2 linked regions of the Homo sapiens genome follow. The protein of the gene in region 1 interacts with the protein of each later gene in a biochemical or structural test. Each region holds a gene or a part of one and is shown in the gene's direction. Other genes may lie near its edges.

Region 1 (3,817 bases):
CACCTGGACAGAGATCTGTAGTAGCCCCTCAGCTCTAGGCTGGCCGACACCATGGCAGTCCCCCCAGGAACTAACCAGAACCGCTCCTCCCTCCTCAACACGCTTGCCGCCACCCAGACTCCACAGCTGGGTGAAGAGACTGGGCTGGGAAGGGAGCAGAGAAGCGGGTGGATGGCCGAGCCTGGCACATTTGGTGTGCAGGACTCCGACTGCATTCTGAGGGGTGGTTCACTGTGGGAAATGGGGTCTGACTTTGGTGGATAGGAAGAGTCGGGAGCAGAATCCAGATGAGACCCAGGGCAGGCTGCCTGGGTAGAGAAGTAGGACAGACTCGGAGGCAGAATCGAGAGGACCTGGTGATGGATGGATGTGGGGTGGTGGCAGCATCAAGTGTTTAAATCCTAAGCTTGGGACGGGCATGTGAGGTGGGAGCGTTCAGAACAGGCACGTGCCAGGTCTCACCTCACACATGACCCAGGGTTGCGGAGGCTGCTGGGAGCCGGCGGGATTGGGCCTGTGGGATCCTGTCAGGGCATAATAAGTAGACTCTTCTTTCCTGAGGTGCACCCAGACACTTCTAGGGAGGATGTGACCCCAGAGCTTTTCCCCATGTAGGGTTCTTCTCATTCTCCAGCATCCCCCTGCCTTTCCTGGGCCAAGAGTCAGCGTGGAACCCCATACGAATCCCCAGGGAGGAGAGGGCACAGAGCACCGGAACCAGCAGTAGGAATTGGAAAACCAGGCGTGGCTTCTTCCCAGAAATCTCAGGCATCAAGAGGCAGAAACCCACTCCCCAGCCTCAGCTTGGCCAGGAAGTGCTGCTGTGGGCTGGAGAGGATGGGTCTAGGCCAAGGTGAACATGCAGAGAGCTGGCTGCTCACCCTTCCTCCACCCCATAAAGTGGTCTGAGTAACAGAGCAGCTAGGCAGCGTCCAGGAGCCAGCCCTGGACAAGGTTGGGTCCCTTTGACTGTGTGACCACAGGCAGGAGACGTAACTCAGGGTGGAGCTCTGGTCACACCTCACTTACACACAGCCCTCTTGTCAGTTGCCCCAACATCTCAAGAGATCTTCAAGCTTATTTAGGTAGTTTCAAGCCTTACTTAGCACCTATTTACTCTTTCTTTGTATACAATTCAAACAAATTCCATTTGCTGACTTCTTGGCAAATTTCAAAAGAGGTGTGGAGAGTTGTACAAGACAAGCCTCTGAACCACAGAGGGTTGGGGGAATACCTTAGAACTATGGAATGCAGAAATTTAGCCATCAGGAGCCAGTCTGCACAGGGACAAACACCTCTCCTTGCCCCTGGAGAGAGCCCCAAGGGCAGACACCATTGCCCTGCAGCCCTGCTTGTAGGTCTGGTTGCTCAGGAGAGCAAAGTGAAATCTCTTCACATTTTCACCCCATAATGGGTCAGGAAAGATTGGACCCTCAGAAGGGCAAGCGCCATTTATCTGGACCGTTCCCATATCCACCCTCATTCAGAGCAGCCTGTTCTTGGTGGAGCCTGATAAACGGGGCATTACCGTTCCCAACCAGTCCTCCTCTGGGGTTAGTTTCGTCCACAGAAGAACACTTTGCATTTTGTTACTCTGTTTTTTGTCAAAATCTGCCTTCTGTCTGCCCCCAGCAGAATCAAGGGGTTCTAAGAGGAGAGCCTAACACCTTTGGTTCGATTCCTCCATTTCCTCACCAGGTATCCCTGGCACTGGCTCTGGGACAGACCATGGTGTGAATCAACTGTCTTCCTCAGGGAAGACAAACTCCTGGAGTCAGGGAAACCTGGATCTCGAAAGGTTTCAGCAATAAGGCCAGGGGTACCTTCCAGGCAGGAGTAGTAGCATCTCAAAGGCGTAGAGGGGTGGGAGATGGTGTGTAGTGAGTGCAAAGGTGTGGTAGGTAGGGAGATTGGATTGATACCTGGCAGGAGCCCCGATTTTGAGTTACGGGTTGAAGGCTTGGGGAGACTCTGTTAGTGGTCTGCACAGCCTTCAGGCCACCAGTGTGCAGTGGGGTGATTTTAGGGATGATGACACCAAGCACTGTTTCACTGATTCCCTGCAGCACTGTGAAGCAGCTCCTGCTAATGTCTGCACTTTAGAAATGGGGCCATGGAAACTCACAGATGAAATAACTTGCTCATGGTCACACTGGAAATAAGGGGTGGAGCTAGGACCTGAATTTAGTTGTGTCCAGAATCAGAGTTCAGGTTTCTATTCACTGCCCTGCATGGCGTCCTTGGAACGGACAAGCAGATCCTTAGGGCTTGCCTCTGCCCTACCAACTGTCCTCGCCCCTTGGAGCCTGGCCTCCATCAGATGCCTGCTGACTTGGGACAGGTTGTGACAGGGCAGGGGAAAAGATGGCTAGAGGCTGAGCACCCACAGCAATGGGAAGGAAGGCACCAGGAGGCAGGCCCAGCATATTTGAATAGGTGGGCATTTCTGGGACTGCAGGCTTTGGTTTGGCAAGTGTGCCTGCCCACACCTTCTTCTTCTGCTAGACCTCAGTGGGTTGGAAGGGATAGGGAGGACCAACAGCAGTGATGGAGGCTGCAGAGGCTGCATACCGCTGTGTGTGCATGAACCTGTGGCATGCACACACACGGAGGGGTGTTGGGATGGGTTGGGTTCACATGGAATTGAGTTTGAGCTGTAAGTGGTAGGGGATGAGGGGCATGTGAGTTTGTGACTGGCTAAAGCAGGAATATTTAGATTCTATGAGCACGGGTATGTGTGTGTGATGGTATACGTGCATAAGAAGCCGTTTCTGGGTAACTAGGGCCTGCACTCTGCTATACGTGTGGCTGGGTGGGTCTGGCCAGTCCCATGGCACTGAGAGTGTGGTGAGTGTGCTCAGGCAGAACGGGTGCTGCCTGCCTACCACATCCGTGGGAGCTGGCCAGGGTGGGGGCAGGGCTGGTGGGCAGGGCTGCCCTAGGACGGGCGTTTCCAGTTCCTGGAACTGCTTCCTTGTGTGGAACCTTTCCCCATACCTCCTAGCTGGGCCCTTGGGAGAGGGGAGGAGGCCGTGGGTCCTTCAAGGGGGTGCTCGCAGGCCAGACACAAGGGAGCTAGGCCTGGGGAACAGAAAGCCACAGCGTGAGTCTTTCAAGCACTTCTGAAGGGTGACATGTGTGAGTTTGTCACACCAGGCCCTCAGTGCGGTCAGGGAGTCTGTACTTCCTGGATGGCGGAACCTGTCTGTCAAGCCCTGCTTCCTCCCCAGCAAGGGGTTGGGGGGAGGGCCTGATGGCAGGAGATGGGCCCCTGGGGCTTTGAGACATGGTGAGGAGAAAAGGGGCAAGTGGGAAGACCCTTTTCCTTCTGTATTTCTCTTTTTTTTTTTTTTTTTTTGAGACATAGAGTCTCACTCTGTCACTCAGGCTGAAGTGCAGTGGCACAGTCTTGGCTCACTGCAAACTCCGTGTCCTGGGTTTAAGCAATTCTGCCTTAGCCTCCCGTGTAGCTGGGATTACATGCTTGCGCCACCACGTCCAGCTAATTTTTTTTTTATTTTTAGTAGAGATAGGGTTTCACCATGTTGGTCTGGCTGGTCTCGAACTCCTGATCTCCAGTGATCTGCTTGCCTTGATCTCCCAAAGTGCTGGGATTACAGGCGTGAGCCACCACACCTGGTCTTGTACCTCTCTGTTCTATGCCTGAACTTCCACCACTGATCACTTGCCATCATCCCAGCAAGTCACACTGAGCCTGTGAAACCACAGGGCACTGGAAACCACACGTTAGGGGAAGTGGGAGAGTTGGCGGGGCTCTCAGATGAACTCCAACCCCTTGTTTCTCGCCTGGGGAAAG
Region 2 (3,817 bases), on another chromosome or scaffold:
CCTCAGGCGATCCACCTGCTTTGGCCTCCCAAAGTGCTGGGATTACAGGCGTGAGCCATCACACCCAGCCCACAGTTCATTTTTATTGCTCCCCTTTACAGGAAAGCTACTTGCATGGTTGTCTCTGTATTGCTGTTCATAGTTTCTCCTTTAAACCAACTCCAAGGAAGTTCCCCTGACACTGAATTTGCAAGGGCACCAATGATCTTCACATTGTTAATCCAGGCGTTGGTTTGCAGTCCTGCCTGATTTGACTTACCAGGAACATTTGACACAATACATTTCTCTCTCCTGGCAAAAGTAGTGCTGTGAGCCATACTTTCTTGATTTCCCTCTGCGTTTCTGTTCTTCTATCTTTATTTTGTCGAGTCCTCCTTTTTTTCCTAAGCCTCTTTTTTTTTTTTTTTTTTTGTTAACTACATTCATTCTCTTGATGCATCTTACTCAGTATTATGCTTTTAAAACATGTGCCTGCTAATGACTCACAAATTTAGCTCAGACTTCTCACTTGAAATTTTGCTTTCTATATTCAGCTGCTTATTGACATCTCCACTTGTAACTCCTTCTTGGTAGGTCCTGTAAAACCTGCTCTCTGGCCAGGCATGGTGGCACACACCTATAATCCCAGCACTCTGGGAGGTTGAGGCGGGTAGATCACTTGAGCCCAGGAGTTTGAGACCAGCCTGGGCAACATAGCAAGAGCTAGTCTCTAAAAAAAAAAAAATTATAACAACAACAACAAAAACCCAGCTCTACCTGTGATATTCCCTGTCACAGTTGATAACTCCACTCTAGCAGGTGCTTGGGTCAAAAATTTTGAAATCACCTTGTTATGGTGGCTCACGCCTATAATCCCAGCAGTTTGGGAGGCCGAGGCGGGCAGATCACCTGAGGTCAGGAGTTCGAGACCAGCCTGGCCAACATGGTAAAATTAGCTGGGCGTGATGGCGTGTGCCTGTAATCCCAGCTACTCAGGAGGCTGAGGCAGGAGAATCGCTTGAACCCAGGAGGCAGAGGTTGCAGTGAGCCGAGATTGCACCATTGCACTCCAGCCTAGGCAACAAGAGCGAAACTCCATCTTAGGAAAAAAAAAAAATGTAGAATCATCCACAACTCCTCTATCTCTCCTACCTTACAAACAGTCCATCAAGAATTCTAGTTACCTCAACTTCAAAACATATCTAGAATCCAGCTATGCCTCACCACCCCCATTGCCACCATTTTGGTCCAAGCTACCATTATCTGTTGCCTGGCTTGGTAGCAGAGTCCTCTCTCTGCTTTCTTCCCACACCTTGTACAATGTTGTTACTCTCCATACAGCACAGAGACTGAATTTCCAAAACAAAATTTAATTAAAAGTCATTTATTTGCACAAAACCCTTCAGTGGTTTCCATCTCAATAAGAGTAAAAAGCACACTTTACAACAGCCTAAATGGCCTTACAGGATCTGACCCCTCTTATCTCTTCAACCTCCTCTTGGTTTTCGCTCCTCCTCATTCACCGTGTTCTAGCTTCATTGGACGCTAGCTGTGCCTTCAACACCTTCAGCTTCCACCTTGGGTCTTAGCCTTTATTCCGTCTGCCTGGTATGCTCTTTTCCCGAAACTCCATATGGCTTTTGCCCTCTCCTTCATGTTTTTGCTCAAATGTCACTTTGTCTGTGAGCTCTACTCCTTTTACCCTTTTGAAAATCACAAAATGCTTCTCATATCACTCCTTATACTTTGTCCTTTTAACAATGCCTTTTTTATTGTTTTATTGTTCTAGGTCAGGAGTGATAAGACATTTGTACTTTACTTATTTATTATATTTTTTTGTCTTATCTCCTTCACTAGTATATAAGCTCCACAAAACAGGCATTTTTACCTATTAATAAGTAATGCTGTCACTGTCTAGAAGAAAGCCAGGTACCAGCTATGCATTCAGTAAATGCTTTTTGAGTAAGTGAATTCACTTGAACCTGACAACACAAGAGAACATTTTTCATCTGTTCCAAAGTGTTCCTTAACATTATGAAAGTTCTTTGTGCCTGTCAGGCCCTCAATCAATAGGCAAGAGATCCAGGCTCTGTCACTGTGAGTCAAACCATATTGTAAAACCTGTATTCCTAGGTGCCGTGCCACCAACTCTGCCTTTTCTCTCACTGACCACGTGAACCGTGTGATCTGGATGACAATGTTGTTTCTAGGAATTTGATTTTGCTTTGCTTATTATCTCCAGGAATATTTGTTTGGGTTTTAGGTTAGGCTTAGGATGTGGTAGAATTTCCTTCCACGTCTCTTCTGTCTGGAGCCTCTGTCCTCCTTAGATTTAAGGATTATCGAAGATTTTCTTTGAAATAGTCTGTAGTAGACTTTGATATTTCATTTAACTCACTAACAAAAGATCCAGCCATAAATACAATGTCCTTCTTTGTGTATATGTGTGTCCTGTTGCTGTAATAGTCCCCATTACTTGAGCTTCTTTTGGCCCACCATGTATGTATACCCTTCTCTCCCAGCAGAAATCTTCCTGTGGTATTTTGTTGGACTTTAGTACACTCTGATTTTATACTGAATACTAAATATTCAACTTTATTATGAGTTAATTTGGTTTATTTTTGTTTTTCTTTAGAACTAAAGGTGGTCCACAAATTGCTTATGAACGCGGCTTTAGGTGGAAGCTTGCTCACTTCCGTTATTTGTGCCAGGTACTATAGTGGTAAATAAATCTTATACTCAATAATTTAGTCTTCTCTTTATACAATACATATACTATAACTCAGATGATATTATGATATTATTTTTGTTTTTAGTCTAATGCACTACCTAGTCATGTAAAGATCAATGTGTCCCGGCAGACATTGTTTGAAGATTCCTTCCAACAGGTAAGGAGGATTTTAGCAGAATAAAACACCATTTGTCTCATTGTATTCTGTGCATCTAAAGAAAGTCAGGGTTTTAGAGATTTTTAAACCACCCAGAACACAGCTATAATAATAATGACTGCCACCACCACTTGTTGAGTGCCTTTGTTTTGTTTTGTTTTGTTCTGTTTTCTTAAATAGAGATGGAATTTCGCCATGTTGCCCAGGTTGGTCTCAACCTCTGGGCTCGAACGATCTACCCACCTCGGCCTCGTAAAATGCTGGGATTACAGGCTTGAGCCACTGCATCTGGCCTGAGTGCCCATTTTAATCATAGTTACACTAAACCTTCCCATATACTGAGTGATTATCATTTGCAAAACACCGGCATCTTACATTTCTCATTTTATTTCATTCGTCCTCACAGCATCCCTTTGAGATAGCACTTATTGTATCTCCATGTTATAGGTAAAGGTACTGAGACTGAGAGACATATCATGAATTTAGATGTGTATTTACTAAAATAAAGCTTAAACAGCTTTTGGAACAAGTTGATTCTTGTTTTGACACAATACTTGGCTAAGAATTTATTACCTCAAAGTTTTGATAATGCTATCAAATTAAAATTAAATTGGTAGATACTGTATTCCATTTGAGAATTCCTTTAATAACTTTATTTTCACCTTTATGTTTCTGTTTAAATGTGATCTCAGAGAGACCTTCTCTGAGCCTACTATTTTAAGATGGCAGTCCTTCTCTTCTCCCTCACAGTCACATTCCAGCCATTTATGGTGCTTTATTCTTTTTCATAACCACCCAACATAGTGTATTTTGTCTTCCTTACTAGAATGTGAGCTCCATGAGAGCAGGGACTATTGGTTTACTGCTGTTCTGCCTAGTACGTAGAATAGTGCCTTTGCACATAGAGGGTATTCAATAAATATTTGATGAACAAATAAATGAATGCAGTA

What was found.
Region 2: the proteins of SLC2A1 (region 1) and WWP1 form a complex in vitro, tested with the Homo sapiens proteins (one study listed by BioGRID).

What each region holds. Positions count from the first base shown.
Region 1 is NC_000001.11:42,931,369-42,935,185, reverse strand, and holds part of SLC2A1 (solute carrier family 2, facilitated glucose transporter member 1), read left to right. Parts: intron 1-3,817. UniProt on the Homo sapiens protein: Facilitative glucose transporter, which is responsible for constitutive or basal glucose uptake. Has a very broad substrate specificity; can transport a wide range of aldoses including both pentoses and hexoses.
Region 2 is NC_000008.11:86,432,838-86,436,654, forward strand, and holds part of WWP1 (NEDD4-like E3 ubiquitin-protein ligase WWP1), read left to right. Parts: intron 1-2,614; coding exon 2,615-2,690; coding exon of another isoform or gene 2,691-2,699; exon of another isoform or gene 2,700-2,701; intron 2,702-2,795; coding exon 2,796-2,867; intron 2,868-3,817. UniProt on the Homo sapiens protein: E3 ubiquitin-protein ligase which accepts ubiquitin from an E2 ubiquitin-conjugating enzyme in the form of a thioester and then directly transfers the ubiquitin to targeted substrates.